Regions from separate parts of the Homo sapiens genome. Here regions 1, 2 and 4 are each linked to region 3. The links come from fine-mapping of genetic effects on gene expression. A gene starts in region 3. Each other region holds a variant in brackets. All regions are shown on one strand. Distances are between the middles of the regions. Region 1 overlaps LOC101927189 (a long non-coding RNA gene). Region 2 has its middle 26 kb from the start of MLIP. Region 3 holds the start of MLIP (muscular LMNA interacting protein). Region 4 has its middle 13 kb from the start of MLIP-IT1.

The links. PIP is the estimated chance that this variant, and not a neighbour inherited with it, causes the effect. A credible set is the group of variants that fine-mapping cannot tell apart.
Region 1: its variant is the best candidate, but not a certain one, in a credible set for the expression of MLIP in esophagus mucosa (GTEx, PIP 0.72).
Region 2: its variant is the best candidate, but not a certain one, in a credible set for the expression of MLIP in subcutaneous fat (GTEx, PIP 0.54).
Region 4: its variant is the best candidate, but not a certain one, in a credible set for the expression of MLIP in cerebellum (GTEx, PIP 0.58).

The regions. Positions count from the first base shown.
Region 1 is chr6:53,991,761-53,996,929 of GRCh38, reverse strand. It overlaps LOC101927189 (a long non-coding RNA gene), which reads right to left. Exons shown (of 4, transcript NR_125842.1): 3 at 2,066-2,140; 4 at 1-1,966. Among named protein-coding and RNA genes, the nearest start is that of MLIP-IT1, 4.5 kb to the left of the region's middle. The variant T/C (reference allele first, on the strand shown) is at 2,080.
Region 2 is chr6:54,083,294-54,088,462 of GRCh38, reverse strand. It overlaps a transcript of MLIP not described here. Among named protein-coding and RNA genes, the nearest start is that of MLIP, 26 kb to the left of the region's middle. The variant C/T (reference allele first, on the strand shown) is at 2,396.
Region 3 is chr6:54,109,214-54,114,382 of GRCh38, reverse strand. MLIP (muscular LMNA interacting protein) reads right to left here and starts at 2,940. Exons shown (of 14, transcript NM_001281747.2): 1 at 2,808-2,940. The coding sequence starts at 2,903.
Region 4 is chr6:54,009,734-54,014,902 of GRCh38, reverse strand. No RefSeq gene overlaps it. Among named protein-coding and RNA genes, the nearest start is that of MLIP-IT1, 13 kb to the right of the region's middle. The variant A/G (reference allele first, on the strand shown) is at 3,154.

The DNA.
Region 1 (5,169 bases), 120 kb after region 3:
AGTAATCAAGTCAATGTAGTTACAGACAAAGCTGTGATAAAAGCATGAATAAAACAACGTGGCAAATGTTTTAAGTGGCAGAATGAAAAAAATGGATGCAATGAATCCAGTTAGGGCTAGTAAGCCAATAAAACAGTGTTAAGCACTTTAAGAGTGTCAGTCTAACTTTGATATTTTATTACCAATATATGACATGTGCATAATCTGTGCATCAGATGATAATAAGTGCTGGGGTTCACCTGTAATTAAAAGGCCTCGTAACAATTTGCATAGATTTTGGTACACTGTACAGGGGTCTCAAAGTACTCAATGCCAAAACACTTTTTTCTTTCAAACTATAATCTTTAACAGCTACTAAAGCAAAATGATTTAATCAGAATCCCAAATGCTAACAAATGAATGTGTTATTTGCAAGCATCATTTAGTAAGGCAGATTTCACCAAAGTGAAATCCTCATTAGTTTTGTATTATGAAATACAGACAAGAACCAGAAAAGGCCAAAGGACATATATTCAAATCTTTGCCAAAAAGCCTCTTCAAGTTTAGCTATTCTATGGCCGCTATATACTGCTGGGACTCACTGTAAAGAAGAGAAAATCCCCGTCCAGAACGCCAGATTAACGTAACATTTTAAAACTGCAAAGAGTGGGAAAATAAGGTCACATTGGGAATGCAGTCCCAGCACATTGAGCTTTTACTATCTCGTAGTAAAATGTGCATATGTATGCTCTGTGTGCCTGGCATTTTATTCATAAAAAAACATGCATAACAGAGATGAGAACCACAATGGACTCTAATCTATGCTCTAAAGGAATAAACAGATGAAAACCAATCTGGACAAGAAAATTCAGTGAGTCAGGCTCAGAAAATGAAAGCAAGTGTGTCTTATATTTTCTAACACACAATATGGCCAAATATTTATAGTCAAAGCTTGGTGGAGAGCTCTAGCAATTATTGCTTCCAGCCATTTAGGTCTCTGGTTTTGAAAGAACACTTTAGTATTACTAATTTTCCAGATAATAGGAGGCAGTGTAGGAGACAATGTTTTCATCATACAATGTGTAATATTAAACTATAACAAATGTACTTACTTAATCTTTCATTTCTAACTTCAGAAAATCAGAGCAGCTTTCCTATTATTGTGGGGTAAATGAGGCTTTATCACAAACATAAGTCATTTGGAGTCCATAGCTCCTTGAGTGATATGTATAACTAAGAAGACCTGAGAATCACAGACCTAAATCTCATGTCCAGATAATTGAGAATAAAATCTAAAAAATTGAGTTGCTAAATGTAGATTTACTTCCAAAAACCTTAGTGATAAACTTCTAGATTTTTGAATATGTTTTGTATATACTAGAAAGCCTGCATTTCCTTTCGTCATCATCAAAACAATTTGACTGTTCTCTTTCCCGCGTGTTGCTACACTGTGAACGAGTGTGGGCTGTTCCTTCTCTCTAAGACCATGCTTTTCAAAAAGTGATCCAAAGACCCTTATACCGTCTTCGCTGTGCTACTAGTTAAGCAGCTGAAATACGAAGGCCACACTCCCCACTTCTAAATAAAAATGTTTAATGATAGAGCTCAGGAATCTGCATTTTTAACAAAGTTTGAGAACTGGTGCTAGGGAATGTGACCACTCTACTATTTTAGTTGTGACACTTAATTCAGATACTCCCATTAAGTGAATATCAAAATCTTTAGATAATATTTAATTTCAAAATTTCTCCCTTCTGAGGGACCACTTAATATATTAATTCAGAGGGCTTACTTAATTCATCTTTTTATTGTTATATATATTGCCTTGAAAAGGAAAGGTCTTAATTATATACAGAATACAATATATGAGGCTGGGTGTGATGGCTCATGCCTGTAATCCTAGCACTTTGGGAAGTCGAGGCGGGCAGCTCTCTTGAGGTCAGGAGTTCGAAATCAGCCTGGCCAACATGATGAAACCCCGTATCTACTAAAAATACAAAAAAAAAAAACAAAATTAGCCAGGCATGGTGGTGGGCACCTGTAATCCCAGCTACTTGGGAGGGTGAGGCATGAGAACTGCTTGAACCTGGGAGGTGGAGG[T/C]TGCAGTGAGCCAAGATCACACCATTGCACTCCAGCCTGGGCAACAAGAGGGAGACTCCATCTAAAAAAAAAAAAAAAAAAAAAAAAATTCAGTATATGATAAAGTTGGTATTGCAAATCATTAAAGCAAAGATTGGCTTTTTATAAGTCATGCTGGACAACTGATTAGCCATTTGGAAAAAGATAAAATTAGATCAATTCTTCACACCATACACAAAAATAAATTCAAAATGAATCAAAGTGTAAAAAATAAAACTATGCAAGTACTAGGGGAAAAAGATGTGTGAATTCCTCTATAAGAAAAGCCTTTCTAACTGTGACTAAAAATTCAGATGTAATTGAAGAAATGAGTGATAAACTTAACTAAATGAAAATTAAAATTTTACAAAGAAAAAATACAAGCAAAGTCAAATAACAAAGTACAAGCCAGGATAAAATATTTGCAATATAAGCAATATTGAATATCTCATAGATAACGGATGGATATTCTTAATATAAAAACAAACTTTTACAAATTAAAGGAGAAAAACATCCTATAGACATATGGGCAAAAAATATAAGTAGACAACTCACAGAAAGATATTTTAAATGGTCCTTAAGCATTTGAAAAGATGTTCAACTTCACTGATAATAGTAGACACAAATTAAACTACAATGAGATACAACTTCTCACCCATCCCATTGGGAAAAATTCAAAAGTGTCACAATACAGTTCATTGCTGGGGCTGTGAGGAAACAGGCACTTTCATACGTTGCTGTTGAGGATCCAAAATGATACAAACTCCACAGAAGAGGATTGGACAATAGCAACCAAAATTACATATGCATTTGTCCATAAACCCAACAATCTCACTTCTAGGAATTTATTCTAAAGATAGTCTTACAACTGCAAAAATACATATCCAGAAGTTTATTCATTGTGGCAGTGTTTGTAATTGCAAATATTAGAAACTGCCTATATGTCTAATCATAGGACACTGTTGAATAAACTCTAGTACAAACACACAATGGATACTCTGTCATGGTAAACAAGAATGAGAAAGCTCTCTATGGACTGATATGGAATGATGGTCAAAAGATCTTGTAAAGTGAAAAATCAAAGCACCAGAGACTGTATGTAATACCACTATCTTTGTTTAGGAAAGATGGAAAAATAAGAAAACATACATATATCTTATATTTACCAAAAATTCACCAGAATGAAAAGCCAGAAACAATTATTAATATGTTGGTTACCCACAAAGGGTGAAGGTGATGAGAGTGCCAGGGCTGTAAAAAGGAGGAACACTTTTCTGAGTATATCTTTCTGTAAGTTTTGACTTTTGAAAGCATGTTAATGCTTGACATATCCAAAACAATTAAATCAACAAGGATAGGAAAGGGAGAAACTGAAACAATGAACCCAATTGTATTTCAAATGAATACTATAATTACAATGCAGGGCAAAAAATAACTAATTTTCATAACTTACAACAGTTTTGACTGCACATCCTACAGCCCTCAGCCTTGGGCAGGGTAGGGAGATGGAAAAACTGGAAACTAGAGATCCTGAACTCTTTTGAGTAGCTTTGCATTTTTGTAGACATGGGTGAAGTCATTCTGAAACTACTTTAGGTGTATTATGAGATTGAGCAAATGTGTAAATCTATCGATTTTAGAAGCCAAGACTCTCACTGTGAAAGAAGGTACATGCAAATATGGAATGGAGGAAGGCAAAAAAGATGAATTGAAAATGGAGGTATTGGTGTACACTTATGATACCTAAAATATGCACATGTATGTGTATAAACATGTATGTGTGCATATAATGTGTATGTATGTGCATTTATATGTATGTATGTAAGAGTGTGTATATGCATGCATATATCTCCTAGCTCTGTTCACTTAAAAAGGTGTAGAAGCAGAGATATTCCAGGAGCAAACAGCACAGCTAGTGCATGGATTTTTATCTCTAACACCATTCCCCACCAAAAGGGGCTTTTAGAGAAGTGGTTCTTAGAGAAGTCGCTGAAAGCAGGGCTGGGGAAGTGTGATGAGCCTGGAACATTTTGTTATATCAGAGGTAAGGATGTGCTCCAAAGATTAATGGACATATGGCACAGGCATACCTAGCCAGCTCGAAAGGACCCCAACTGGCCAAATTTGGGATAATCCAAGCACCAAGCTAAATAAGGATAATAATTATATACCACTTGGGGGAAGGTGGGGTGGGGAAACAGAAATCCGTGGGTTCATACAGATAATACACACTGCTATGGTGTGAATATATGTATCCCCCCAAAATGCATGTGTTGAAACTTAACCTCTAGAGTAATGGTATTAAGAGGTGGGATCTTTGGGAGGTGATTAGGAATTAATGTTCTTATAAAAGGGGCCTGAGGGAGTTTGTTCACTCTTTCCACCACGTGAGGACAGAGAGAAAGCACCATGTATAAGGAAAGGGCCCTTACAAGACACCAAATATGCTGGTGCCTTGAACTTGAACTTCCCAGTCTCCAGAACTGTGAGTAATAAATTTCTACTATATATAGACTACCCAGTGTAAGGTATTTTGTTATAAGGTATTTTGTTATAGACAGACTAAGACACATTCATCCATACACGAGGAAAAGGCAGGGTCCTTGGTTAAAGTAGAAGGTCACATGCTGACTGGTAAACATGGAGGGAGTGCTGAAGTGATCCTTGTCATTTTGTTGCCATCACAGCAAAGATTGGTTCAGGTAAGAATCCCAATAGATGCTAAATCTGAGGGGAAATTGTAATGAGGAGCAGGATATTTGGGTGGTCTTAAAGTGTCTCTCTTCAAACTCATTATTTTGCAAAGGAGAAAATAGTAACTATTTACAGTTGGAGAAATAGGACAACACTCCTACTGTGTGAGGAAAACTGGTGTCACCAGGGAGGGGCAGATAGACATCGTGTGCCTCCAGATGTGGCTGTCTGAGAAGCACACAATATCACATATGCAATATCCTGGCCAGGAATGCAGAACTTAAATCTAATCATGAGGAAACATCAGACAAATTCAAAATACAAAGACTCCTGTTTATAAAAAGTATGGGGACTCTGTCTTCAAATCTGTCACTGTCA
Region 2 (5,169 bases), 26 kb after region 3:
TTAAATAATGACACAGTCTTTGTGGCCGGCCACACTCTTTGACCTCGTTTAACTCTGGCATCAAGATTGTCTCACCTACTACAGAACCTCAGGGAAAGCAAAGAAGGGTAAAATAAGTCAATAATTTCATAAGTTACTATATTTGTATGCCTTGATTTATCCATTGGTGCTCCCACTTAGGCCAGACCCTCACTTCTTCCTACCCTGAACCTCCAGCATCTGACTTTTGACATATTCAGGAAGTTTGAGGCCTCAGAGACCTAAGCATAAGTTTCTCTCTTTTCCTTGGCTTGTTCTTCAGAAAAGACAAACTATTTTACTTCAATTCTGAAACCACCTTGCATAAACTAAATGTGTCAAGTTTGGAAAACACATAAGCATAAGAATATGCAAATTTCCTTTTGGGAACAAGAGCTAACTTGAAAATGATACCATGGCCGTTTCTGAAGACTCCAAAAGGAAGCTGTTTAGCTCAGTAACTTGCACTAAATCATGAGTAGGTTCAGCCTGCCCAGGTGTTCTCCCTCTGGACACATTCCCCAGGTAGAGCTTTAGGCTCTTCAGAAAGCCTGATCGCTGCCTGGCAGATGGATCTTCTGGCAAAGAGCAAGAATCTCAAACAGTGGAGGAGTTAAAAAAAAAAAAAGAGTATCTTTCCCATAAGCATCTTAAAGTATTTTGTTTTTTAAAATTTTTCTTAAACAGTTCAGTAAATGGCAGCATCACCCAAGCAAAATCTACTTTATTTTATTTAGACAAAGTAATGTTCTCACAACCCATGCAGGTCCACAGCTTGGATCCTCTTCCTTCTCATGGCCCCTCACACATGTGAGGGCAGTGGCCCCCAGAGGAAGGAGAAGGCATGCAAGTAAGGAGTCACCAAGCTTTCAAAGATAGCCTGACTTACTGGAAATGTGTTGGCCCCTCTATTAGATTCATTCCTCTTTGCCACTATTTTTTATCCCTGATTTCTGTGGGTTTTTTTATGTTTCTTTTTTGCATCAAATAACATTTCTTTTTCTTGAAACACTTTCCCTCTACGAAACCACCCACTTCAATTTAGTCATTGAGTCATCAGAATGGACTCATTAATAGATAAAGACAAACAATCTGAATCCAAGGCTATTTGCTATAAATGTGAAACTTCCACCTCTTCAGCAGTTTACATACCTAAGGCAGATATTGTAACACCTCCTTGCCCTCTACGCTCATAGTCACAGAAGAGGCACAGCTATAGGTTGTTGTTTTGGCTTTGATGCCATATTAGAATAGACTTCCAGAAACCATTCCCTACTTCCATATATCATAATATTCATTTACTCATCGTTTGTTCAAAAAATCTTGACTGAGCACTGGCTAGGTGCCAGGTGTTATCCTAGATCCTGGGGATACAACAGTGAGCTGAACACAAAAAAATCCCTGCCCTCATGTAACCTCTATTTTAGAAGAGAGAGATAGATGATAAATAAAATAAGTTACATAATATCTTAGAATATTGTGGTCGTGCTGAGAAGGAACTAAGCATGGAAGATATGTACAGGGAGTAGCAGAAGATGGAGGTGAGAGCACAATAGATTTCAATAGGTTGGACAGAGAAGGCTTCCTTGGAGGTGACTTTTAAGAAGAAGATTTAAGGAAGTGAAGAAATAAATTATGCAGATATCTAGGTGAAAATACTCCAAGAAGAGAGAACAGCAAAAGCCAAGAACCAAAGGTAGGAGGCTATCTGACATCCCTGAAGAACAGAGGCTGGTGTGGCTGGAGAAAATGACCCTGGGGAAGAGCCAGAAGGGATGTGGCAAGATTCTTAAGAAGGGGCCAGATTGCTAGGGCCTTGTCAGCCACTATAACGGACTTTGGCTTTTATTCTGAGTGAGATGAGAAACTATTGAAATATTCACAGCAAAGTGGTGACATGATCTCACTCTCCAGTAGCAATGAGCATATTAAGCACCCAAATCTTGGTTTCTTTATGCTATATTCCCCTAAAATGAAGGAGGTTTCCTTGCAGAAATGGCTGATTCCAAATTTCAGTCAAGAAAAGCACAAAGTAATACTAAAAATTAAACATACACACATAAATAGGTGGGGTAAGAAGAGAAAGAACCACTGTTCAATTGTGGACACCTTAGGTGGGAGGGGTCTTTTAGACATTCAAGTAAATATGCTGAGTATGGAGTTAGATATATGAGCCTAGAATTTAAACATAGAGTCACATCTGGAGATGTAAATGTGGAAGTTATAAAGATATAGAGAGCATGTACAACCTTGAGATTGAATCGTATTACCTAGCCAAGGAGTAAATGTAGATAAAGAACCAATGAACACACATGCAGAGGTGGTAAATGTGAGGAGGATGAAGACTGAAAAATATGGAGTATTTATAGAAAATAAC[C/T]AATAGTTCAGTTATTCCAGGACATACGACACATAAATCTGAGCAGTGGAAATTCAGGCTGTCATGGCAGGTCTGGGAGAGAATACAAAGGGCCTGGAATGCAGCCTAAGAAATTTCTTCTTCAGAATTCAGAAGAAGTGAGAGCAGCAGATGTAGACTCAGCAGTCATCAACATAAAGCAAGCTGGAACTTCATAGCCTGATGAGACTGCTCTGGGAAAATAAATAAATGAAGGCCTTGAGATGAGGCTAGAACTCTGGTAACCCTGGAACTATTCATGTAGGAAAATGAGCGTGAATAGATGCTTGTGTGAGTCAGCCACTGGTAGGCAGCTCTTCACACAGTGACCTTTTCAAAGGAATGGATCTGTGCTTGGCAAGTTGAAGGCTTCTAACAGGACACTGCAGCTGGGTTTGTAAAACTGTTCAGGCTCACTCTGCTGGGCTTCCACCCTTTAATCTCACTGATTCGTTTTGTTTACTTGTAGCCTAGCTACAAATGAGAAATATGATCTCTTCAAATATCCCCCCAAGAATTCTGACATGACCAGAGATGATGAAGACAATCATGATATCATGATAAACACAAAGTTTACTGTGTGCCAGACATTTATTAAGTACTTTCTCATGGAATCCTCACAAAAACTTTTGAAATAGGTACGACTATAATCCCTATTAATAAGTGGGAATTCTGATGCTTAAAAATGGTTCACTAACCTCCCCCAAGGTCATACAGCAAGCAATAGCTGTAGCACTCAGGCACAGGTCTTTCTGACTCCATAGCACTGCAGTCTTAACTATTGTCACACAATGTTTCTCAATGCCTCTCAGAGGTGCCACTTGGAACCACAGCCAGTTAGAAATGGTGGGGCTGGTGTCAGGAGAGAGGAGAAGGATGAAGTTGTAACTGTCACTTAGCCTGGCCTTGTGCCTCAGTTATCCATTTAAGGAACTCTCAGTTGAAGCCCATGACTTGCTAAAGATGAAAAGCCTGTCGTGGATGCAATTCCTAGTGAAAAACTACCTGCAGGGTGAACACAGTAGATTTCAAATCTGGTCTATCTATGCTTCAAGAAATGTCTTCAAGAAGTGGAGGTTTGCTACAAAATTGGAACACATTCCTAGAGTAACACCTGGAATCATCTCAAAAGGCCTTCAAGTCTCGACATATACAACTTTTAGACAGAAAGTAAATGAAGCGAAGAAGATTTTGCAGAAATTCACAATGGCCAAATTTTTGAAGCTTTTATCCACCATCCATTTGCTCCCGTGACTCTTAGATTAAAATGCCTTTACAATAACAGGGATATATTGGGAACAGTTAAAGCTGTGCTACCCTGGGGCAACAAGCTTAAAAAATGCAATGAAAATATACTAATCTTCCCTATTTGAGGAATTCAAAAAGAAAAAAATAATTCCTGAATTTGCAAAGAGTACTTTTTTCTCCTTGTTAACCCAAATTAAAAAGGTTCCCAGCTATTGTATATGTACACATATCCACCTGCTTGAGGTATAGAAAAGCAATTAAGTCACTCTGGAATGCATTCATGGTGGATTAAATAAATACCCTCTCCCTGTCTTATTTCACTGACATCTAGGTAATGTGACCCTGATTGCAAGAGCAATGCCTTGCAAATAAAAGTTGCAGGAACGTTCAGTACCCATTTATTATTCCATCATCGTAGGCTTGACACACCCAGCAGTAAATGTGATCATGTTCAGCACCATAAACAAAATTGTTATCTTCAATTACTACTGTGGATAATTCATAGTTTCCAGGGACACTACTGGAAAAAAAATAAGTAATGAACCTTCACATGTGGAATCCTAAGCTTCAACTAAAGAGTGTACAAATACTGGGATGCCAGGTTAGGAAAGAGAGAAGGGAGGGGTGATAGGGGGAGCAAAAAAGTTCAAGGAAGGACAAAGAGGAAAAAGTAGAACTGTGGCTTCTGTAATTCATAGTCACAAAGCATAACTGAGACTATGTTAAGAAATTAGAATTACATGTTGAAACCTATTTCAAGATCAAATCATTAAAATCATGATACATTTTTACATTCCCAAGTTTGTTCTACTTAAAATTATTTTTAAATTAAAAAATATATAATCTCAAATTTAGTCCTAAAAAGTAGCAGCTTAAATGCAAAGCAATTTTTCAGATTCATGATACTCATTCCTACCAACAATTTACCTAAATTATTTCCCATTATATAAAGTTATAGTAAAATCAACTTTTCCTGGAGCAATTCTAAAGTTGAGCATGCTAATTAGTCCACAGCTAATTTAACATCTGTTGTCTGATACCATTATAAACAGCCATGCCACCTAAAACATAACTACTGCAATACGAAATAAGAAATACAAAGACAGTACACAGCTATCATTGATGTTAAATGTATAACAGGGTGACAGTATCAAGGAATTGTACTAATAATGTCATAGAACTCACAGAACATTCAAATCCAAGGTACCAGCTGCACATGGAATCCGGTGCCACGTGTCAAACTAGCAGATGTCAAGAAAGCAGTGGTTGTAACGGCAAGGTCAGTGTCAGCCAATAGAACTCATTGACAAACACTTGCCTGTGTCAGCTGCTGATATTGATGAGCTGCAAAGATGACAAAGCACTGTACAAATTATGCCCTCCTTCCTCCCTGCTTCCCCAACAACTCTGGACTGGAAATAGCAATGCATCTGTTATTTCAATCCCATCTGAATATATTAACCTATCTTGACCTTAGCAGTGTTCTAAGAGAAACTCTTTGCCTGGAA
Region 3 (5,169 bases):
TGGTTTGAGAATAACGATCAAATTTTGTGTGCCCAATATACAACCAAGTGGAAATGTGAGTATGAGTCAAGTTTACAGGAAATTCTGTGCTGGGGATAAAATTACTAGGGTTGTTAACCCATAGATGATATTTAAAACCAGGAGACTAGATGAGATCAATAAAGATGTAAACACAAATAGAAAAATAAGAGGCTTAAGGCCAAACCCTACAGACTCTAACATTGAGTGATCCACCAGCTGAGGAAGAACTAGCCAAGGTGGCCTGGGCGTTTTAAGGAAGATTTTAAAAGGCTGAAACATCACTGACAGTAGTCAGAAAGAGGGCTGACCAGAAACAAAATTTCTCACAGTCTACACTGAGGAACCAGTCCAAATATAAATCCAGGAACAGTGAGGCAATTTGCTTGGCTGTTCGATAGTCTCTCAAGGAATGCTTTGCTGGTTTTGGCAGGATGTGGCAAGTATAAGGAAATTAAGGGTACTGGTGAGAGTAGAGCAAATGATTGACCATGGAGTTCAGTTTGTATAGGTAAGGAGGAAGAACCCTCAAGTTGAAGGAACTAGAGGTCTCTGTGCTCAGGAAACAGAGTTGATACTATGATGACTGTTTGAGAGAATGGATGGGGTCATAATATGATATGAGAGTTTATTAATTTAATAATTAGAAGTATGATAATTCCAGATGATTCTAAATTCCAGGCTTTGGCATTAAGACTGAGTATATGAAAGGAAGGGCACTGAGCTTGTGAAGATCAAGGAACTGTGAGACAAGAATATTGACAGGGTTTTAAAAACTTTTAATTTTCAATATTCTTTTCGCCTTTAAAGATATGTGTCATTATTTCCTCATTGTATCCATGTCAAAATACCTTATCATCAAAAAGTAATAAATCAGTGCTTTATATTGTAGGAAGGATCCCTTGTGAGATTTAAGGAGCCCACTTATCTATCAACAATACGTAATACAACAGGCCTTCTAGATGTATTATCTTCTAGGGCTGTTTCATCACATAACTAATCTCATCAATATCATGATAGAAAGGAGAGTGGTTTTGGCAAGGAAATTACTGAAGTAGTTCAAATAATCCATCCCATAATTTCATTTGAGTAAGAAATAAAGATAATCCTTTAGGAGTAAAGAGGTGAAATTGCAACTTTGTCCCCAGGTTCTGTAACTAGGCCTTCCCTTATCTTTCCATGTCATGACTATAGGTCTATCTTATGTTCCATCCAAATAAAATTTAAAAAATAATATATGAAAGTCTTCATTATAAGCACCCCATGGTTACAAAATACATATAACCATTATAAGCAGTAAGTAGCTTTACCTTCTAAAGCATATATAATGATGAAAATTTATTTCTTCAAACACCTTGCACAATTTGTATAATTCAATGCTACTTAAGTATCTAAGATACAAATACAGCTCCACAACTGGTATGTCACATGCTATGAACTTTTTAAAAGTTGACAGCTATAACTTTCAGTGAATAAAGTAGAAACAAAGTATGAATGAAAACTGATGCTTCAATGAATAAGGTATGCTTTTACAACGGTACTGCCTAAAAAATTTCTAAACATAACCACATCCTGACAATAAAGGCAACTGAAAAGAAGAAAACCTATTTCTTTCTAATTTATTGTTATATTTTCCTAAAGAAACATCCATATCCTACATAAAATTTTCTCACCAGTGTAAGGAAACAATTTTTTTTTATTTTAGTTGAACCAGTACATGATGTGATTCCAGAAAACACAGAAACAGGAAATCTAATAAAACTAAAGACTTATTCATCTTCCTGAGTTACTGTTGGAGAATAACAAGATCAGACATAAATTCCTGTCCACATACATATCTTCAGAAGAATAATCACAAAAAGGGCAATCATTTGGTATTCGCTTTTAAGCTAACAGTACAATATTAGCTCTTTTCACCACCTTTACCTAGCATCCTTAACTTACCAAGGATCTAATACTCATTCACAAGGAATTTCAGTTGGAAAAGAATTTGAAATTACACCAACTATGCAATGCAACATTCAGATAAAGAGCCACATATTAGCCAGTAGACTATTTAATCCCTTGTTTAGGAGAGAACAAAAAAATATTTGCTGTTTACTGCATACTGTGGCTAAGTTCCAATGTAGCCTAAGAATGAATTGCTATGGTGATGAAAAACCATTTTCCACACAAAGCAGCAACAGATGCATGTTAACAGCATTGCACTTGTTAATTGCCAATTAACACTTTCAGTTGTCAATGTTATTTAAATATCTTAGTTTCTATCCTTGGGAAACTAATTTAGTCATAGAAATATGAGATAAAAGGATTAAAATCTTTTTCTAAATACACTTTGAAATGCTCAAAATCTCTAAGAACGTCATCTTCTCACCGGATAGCCTAATAATTTGAGAAACTGTTTTCCCGCATGCCACGCAGGCTAACAGCTCCTTTGCTCAGTTTTGGGCTGTAATGCCTTCCTTTCTTATATTTCCCTAAAAGTTCTCTTCCTTCAGATGTTGACACCCACACTCGCAGATGGCCTCTAGCCTCCTGTTAAGGCATTACAGGGTATCTTACATTATCACTGTGCCAAGGGCAATCCTGAGCATTTTCTTTGCCCAATGAGCAGTTTTGTCTTTATCAGCTCACCCTTTTCTCTAAGTGAAGATAGCATTTCATTTCAATATACATACAAATTTATCTTCACTGGGCAGCTCTCCCTCACATCCTTGCAGCAAATACCACCAGCACCGTACACTGCTTTTAAAAGTTACTGAAAGCATTAAGCAAAGACTTCCTTTTACCTGGGGTGTGGTCTGAATGCTCCCTGATAAGATGCACGAGGTCATTTGGAAGTAATTGTTCCCGCAGTCACTCAGAAGCCCCTGTTCTGAAAGCATTGATTCATCACATAAGGGAGCGAGCAAACCAATGACTGAGGTGGGAAGGGAGCCTCATACTAAAACAACACACACACACTCACGCAGAAAGAAGAAATTCTAAAAAGAGGTAAAGCAGAGTCATTCCAAAATTGAGGAATTGTGTCAGCTCCGAAGAGTAGATTTCTGTTTTGACAATTTTTAGATTTGGAACATTATGAGAGGTCATACTAACTGCTGAAATGGAATCAGTAGAAGTGAAAAAAAGAAAAAGAAAAAGAAAAAAAGCCACTGATATGTGTTTTCCCTCTTTTCTTTTCATGCATGTATTCCAATTATATATTCTGTGAAAAGAAGAGAAAAGCCAGATTGTGCAGCAATGAGAAGCTGATTGAAGGGCGCTAGCACCTGCCAATCTCAATAATCAGTTGGTCATGCTCATAGAGAACATTTAGAGGTATAAATACATGCAAACACTGTGTCCAAATAAAGAACTAGAAAACACACAGTTATTTCAAAATATCAGTAACTTTATCCTTAGTATATAAATTGTAAGCAACAATACAGGAGCATCTGTAGTGACTGAAGTTATGTTATTAACAAAATCACCTCTAAAATAAAGCTTGGAATCAAATCCTTGTCAAAACAGAATTTCATTCCAAGGTTCCTGGAAGACAGTGAGAATCCTGACTGCAGACAAACCTTAAAACTTCATATGTGAAATTGATTGGAGTCTTCAGCTTTCAGTACTTCTATTTTCTAAGTATTGATTTTTCTCCAAATCTGTAATATCTACATTTGTGCTTTGGCAGTGAAAAGTGTTGTATCCAAAGGACTAGATATAGATCAAAGGCTATGGGAAGGAATTACTATTTTAGAAACCTAGATTATGCCTCTTCACATTTTCGATGTTATCAAAAGCCTGAGATTATGGAAACATAATGAGTAAAATAATTGCTATAAGTGATTCTATTAGCACAGTGGGAGGAACTATTCCAAACAACACAGACCTAGAATATGATCTAAATTTCTGAATATAAGTGCCGTGTTATAAAAAAAACTATGAGCCTTCTTCTATTTTACACATATTTATGGATACTCAAAAGAGAATATAAGTGCCTCTTGCCCTCAAAAAGCTAATGGTTTGAGAATATAAAACAGGTAAACAAATAACAAAGATACAAAGTGAAAAAAGAAAACAAGAAAAAGCCCTATACTGGCCAGGCGCCGTGGCTCATGCCTGTAATCCCAGCACTTTGGGAGGCCGAGGCGGGCGGACCACAAGGTCAGGAGATCGAGACCATTCTGGCTTATATGGTGAAACCCTGTCTCTACTAAAAAATACAAAAAATTAGCCGGGCGTTGTGGCGGGCAGCTGTAGTCCCAGCTAATCGGGAGGCTGAGGCAGGAGAATGGCATGAATCCGGGAGGCGGAGCTTGCAGTGAGCCAATATCGCGCCACTGCACTACAGCCTGGGCGACACAGCGAGACTCCGTCAAAAAAAAAAAGAAAAAGAAAAAACGAAAGGAAGGAAGGAAGGAAGGAAGGAAGGAAGGAAGGAAGGAAGGAAGGAAGAAAGAAAGAAAGAAAAAGAAAGAAAGAAAAGAAAGCCCTATACTGCAGTTCTTCTTAAACTACTGCACACATAAATCCCCTGGGGAGCTTGTTAAAATGCACTTTCTAAGTGTGGAGATCTGAGATGTGGCCTCAGATTCTGCATTTCCAAGAAGCTCCTAGTAGATGCCCTGGGAGCCACACCCCAGATCTGCTGCTGGTGTGTTACACTTTGAGTAGCAAAGACAGAGGAATTTCAGAGAACGATGTTACAGCCACCTGGAGGGCAGTAATTCAAGATGGTGGCATTTGGGCTGCACTTAGAAGAACGGGGAAAGGGAAACTATGAAGGTGGGATGGAATAGCAAGTATTTCAAGCAAAGAGAGAGGGCTGGATTGAAGGCACCTATCGGGACAGCAAGAGCAGTAAGTCATAAAGCACAGGACCCTGGAGCCACATCATCCACTGGCTGTGGGCCCTCAGACAAGTTACTGAACTTTTTAAAGGCTCAGTCCTCTCACCTGTGAAATGTGGATGAGAATAGCTCTCATTTCACAGAGTTCTTGTGAGGATTACAATTAAATTCAGCATGTAAGATTTCCACAGATTCTTAGCTCTGTGCCAGGCAGATTCTTAATACACGTTACTCCTGTGGGTATTGTTGTTTTCTAGTTTTATAAATAACATAAATGAGAATAAAGGCAAGTAAGACAAAAAAAAGTAGGTTAAAT
Region 4 (5,169 bases), 99 kb after region 3:
ACATGTGTTGTTACGAAAATTAAGTGTGGTAAATTTTGTGTGTAAGGAACCTAACAGAATGTCTGGCAACAAGCAGGTTCTCAGTAAAAGCGTGTGACATTTTTTCCCTGGTCGACATGACATTTATGTAGGAAAAAGGTGACTTCAAAGATACTATCCAAACCCTAATAAGTGTGGCAAAAAAATTAACTAGACCAGGGATCGCCAACCCCTGGGCCATGAACCAGTACTTTGTGGCCTGTTAGGAAATGGGCTGCACAGCAGGAGGTGAGTGGCAGCTGAGCGAGCATTACCACCTGAGCTCCACCACCTGTCAGATCAGCAGCAGCATTAGATTCTCATCAGAGCGTGAATCTTATTGTGAACTGCGCATGTAAGGAATCCAGGTTTCATGCTCCTTACGAGAATCTAACGAATGCCTGATGATCTGAGGTGGCACAGTTTCATCCAGAAACCATCCCCCACCCCTAGCCCCATCTGTGGAAAAATTGTCTTCTGGGAAGCAAAAAGGTTGGAAACCACTGAAATAGAAAATAAGAGCAAATATTTGCAAGTTATTTATCTGATAAAAGATTTGTATCCAGGATACATAAAGAACTCTTGCAACTCAACAATAAAAAGACAAATAACCCAATGTAAAAAAATGGACAAAGGATTTGAATAGACATTTCTCCAAAGAAAACAAATGGCCAACAAGCACATGGAAAGATGTTCAACATCATAGTGATTAGGAAGCACAAAACAAAACCAGGAAATAACATTTCACACCTATTAGGATGGCTAAAATAAAACACAAACAATAACAAGCATTGGCAAGGATGTGAGGAAACTGAAACCCTCTTACATTACTCCTGAAATCATAAAGGGGCACAGCCACTTTAGACAACAGTGTGGCAATTCCTCAAAATGCTATACATAGAATTACAATATTACCCCAAAATTCCACTGCTAGGTATATACACAAGAGAAGTGACAACATGTGTCCACACAAAACTTCTACCCAAATGTTCATGACAGCATTATTTGTAATTGTCAAAAAGTGGAAAAAACACAAATATCTATCAGTATATGGATGGTAAAACAGATGTGGTATATCCATACAGGGAAAACTATTCAGCAATAAAAAGGAATTAAGTATTAATACATGCAAGAACATGGATGAACCTTGAAAATACAATAAGTGAAAGAAGCCAGTCACAAAAGACCACCTATTACATGATTTATTTACATAAAATGTCCAGAATAGGCAAATTCATGGAATGAGAAAGATCATTTGTGGTTTCCAGTGGTAGGAGGGAAGGCAGAACAGGGAGTGACTGCTAACGGGAACAGAGTTACTCTTTTGGATGATGAAAACGTTATGAAATTAGACATTGGTGATGATTTTGTACAACTTTGAAAATATACTAAAAATCACCAAAGTGTATGTACAGCGTAAAAGGATAAATTTTATAGCATATAAATTATACATTAAGAAGGCTATTACTTTTTTAAAAAAAATTGACAAAGAAAGATTTGTAATTCCTTTTTAAGCTGGAAATTTATTATTTTTCCCAGGAATATACTACACACATAGGGTCCCTCCAAACAGGAAATTAAAATGTAAACTGCAGTAACCAAGCAAGAATTCCATTCAAAATGGAAACAAATGACCGCTGGCACATAATATTTGGTTCAAGATATTGCCACCTCACTTCATTCCTTTGCATTCAATACACCTGCTTCCCAAATAAGTGCCTGATGAATTTGTGCCTGTATTCAAAAACTGGGGGAAAGTGGAACTTGCAGCAATTAAAATTGCTTGTTCATTTACTGGATCAGAGATCCAAATGTAAATTAACTTTAATTGTGGTGATTTTCCCTCACCTGCCATTTAAAAAACTTCCTTCTCCACAAAAAAAGCACAGATAGGTGCTCTACTGCTGAAACCTCACAAGGTAGACAAGGCACGAATGAAAACAAATGCTGTTTTCTTTTGAAAGAATGACAATCTGCCAAACATGGCATAGACAACCCAGAATCTTCCCCATTACATGCTCCAAGGATAAATATCTTTTTACTAAGACAGGGGTCATCTTCTGGGACAATTGATGCTTTTATAAAGGTTTCTTATCATTCCACATAGCCCATCCAGAACATGAGTCCGTTATTCCCCCCTTGATCAATTCAGAAGCCCACGTAATCTCCACACCCATTTAGTGATGGACCAGGATACTATACTCAGCACATGCTTCAGGTACCCAAGGGCCTAATCCAAATGTAGCTCAGACCCAGCATTGAGCACTGATCTCAAACAGTTAACTTCTGATCTGTTGGTGTTGCTCTTAGTTCAGAGCTTATGCCTTTGTCTCTAGAAAGCTGTGTTCCAATTGGTGGTCACAGCATTGGGGAGGGAGGTGGCTGTAGGCAAGCGAGAGAATGGTTCCCAGCTCTTTCTGGTTGTCTCAGCATCCTTACCTGAATCTATTTATCAGCTTTGGCAGCTGCAAACTCTTAAGGAGCAGCTGTCAACTCTTCTACGGGAAGACTTTTAACCTCCCATCACCACCCTTTTTAAGGCATCCGTGATGGCTTCTGTAGGCAAGCAGTACTGAGTTCTAAAAGTTGTGGTGGGTACTCAGAGCTTGTGAAAAGATAATGTCTATAGAGGAATTTCTTAAAGTTGAATTCGTCACTATACAACAAATATTGTTTGTAAGTTGAAGCTGCCAAGCAGATAAAAAAGCCAACCCCAAAATATCAGTAGATGATAATTATGATAATGACAGCTTAACAAACTTGTACCTTTGTAATTACTGTTCTTCAGTGAAACATAAACTATTTCTACTGGAATGTAAGTTTTTTAACTTCTTCTGATACTGGTTGTCCCCTTATTTTGGTTCTGGGCCATATTTTTTGAATGACTATAAAAAATACATTTTAGTCCATCTAAGGGAGAAAACATGTTCTTTCTAAAATTACTTCTGAGGCAGAGTGTTTTTTGAAGCATTAGAAAATATTTGAATCAAGTGAGAACTGTAAGAACTTTGAAAAGTGCTTTTTTAATTTGTGCACCATCTTAAAAAAATGCAATTCCTTTATTGGAAACTTATTGAAAAGTAAAATGTGAGGTTTTAAAAAACTACTGCTATTAACATTGGTGACAATTTCTAC[A/G]TAGCAATAGTAATTCGGATATAAAACTAAATTCATACCTTCAGAGTCTGTAAAACAAACTGGCTAAAATCAGTTGAGAATCAAGTCCAGCATGTTCCGTTTTCTCAACTACTATATAATAGCACGTTTTCAAGGGGCTTTCAATTTATTTTCTCTTGTGCATGGTTACATCCACAGAGGTACTTGGTTGAACAGGATTTGCTCTTGCATTTGCAGTCAATATATTTCTAGGCCCTTTCAACGGTCGATACACTTCCTAGTAGTTCCTAGTAGCCACTTTCTGTCTGTCTGTCTGTCTGTCTCTGTCTCTCTCTCTCTCACACACACACACACACCGTTGCTATTTCAGGAGTAAAGACAACAAACCAAGGTGAACTGACAGGATTTTAGGGAAAAGGACTCAGAAGCAGAATTACAATGTGTCTTTCTAACTTTGGAAAGGAGTTCCGGATTTAAGTTTTTCTGGGTCTTTTTGACTTAATCAATACAACCAGATTCAACACCTAGCTCACCCCTCCCCCAAACCCAGCAGCTTAACTGTCATGGTTGTGTTGACATGATAAATCACTTTGCCCCCAAAGTAACAGCTCGGTGCCCTTTGAGACAGTGTGCCCAAAATGTACTTTCAGTTTTATCAGTTGAAATTGTAACATGTTCCAAAGCAATCTGCACTTATACAGAAAGAATGCTTACCTTTCTACTGACTTGGAAGCAGTCTGCAGGACAGTAATCCATCAGGGAGGTCAACGGCCACATTCCCAGAACAGCTGACCCTGTCAGTCTTCGGAAAATACTGTTTACTCTGTAACTAATACTGGATACCAGGCACAAGAGGCAGAAACCAAATTTTAAAAAAAGAGTTTGGCATAAACCTCATTCCCACTGGGACCACTTCACAAGAACCGTAGTTGCTAAGTTCCCCCCAAAATATTTCTTTATAAGAATGTCTTAGCAATAGTGGGAATTTTGAGTCAAGTGTTGAAAGTTTTGCAACATATCCAACTATCTAATTTTTAGTGTACTGATGAAAATTCTTTAAGCTTCCCTAAGGACATAAGTGGTAACAGAGTAAAATGTTACTGAAAATTGAATTTATCTTCTATTATGTTGACTGGATTTTTTAAGTAAAATTAAAAGTCCTTCTGAAGTGAAATGTCCATTACTCCAGAGAAGGAAAGTCGGAATTATGCAATAGATGTCCATGACAAGGCTGAACAAACTCCACAGTCAGGCAGGACAATTGCCCTGCTTCCCAGCCACCAAAAAATGTCCAGAGAGGGCAGACTTCTGCTGAACCTTCCTCAGTTCCCACAAATTTTCTTCGCTAATTACTCTCAACAGAAGTGAGTCTGCGTTACCCCAAAGGCCACTACTTCAATGTCTAGCCTCTGTGCAAAGGGATCCAACTTTGGGCTATGGCCCATGTGGAAGTCCCATTTAAAGCATAGCCAGGGAAGAGACTCAGAATTTGAAAAGCAAATTATTGCTCATTTACTTGATTATCTGTGGAAAATATATCATCTCAGATTAGCTTTGTCATCCCACCCTGTAAATCATCCCACCTGCCTTCTATAGTGTATTTTTAAAAGAAGGAAGCTATCACAATTTATTTGCCTTTTGGGATCATTCACATTGTAACTCAGGGTTCCCTAGTAACTTGTAACTGTGGCACACTGAGTTTCTGCTGTTTCAAAAGGTTCCAGGAAGAAGCCCAGCTATAGCAAAACAAAAACCAGGTAAAACCAGAGGTGCCTGAGTTGGAGATGAAGTTTGGTGAACTCTCCCTATTACCATACTTAAAAACCCCACCTAGGGAGGAGCTTATTCACCATTTTCTATACCTGCAATATATGAAGAAGCATGATCAGGACTGTGCCTGCACTGCCTTTACCCTGCCTTTCATACAATGACTAAGCCAACCAGCCTAATGAAAGCCCTGCTCTCATCTTCCTTTGGAGAGACACACTGCTTTGGGAACTATCCCCAGTGTTCTCCTTACTTGTTGCAAGTAACAAA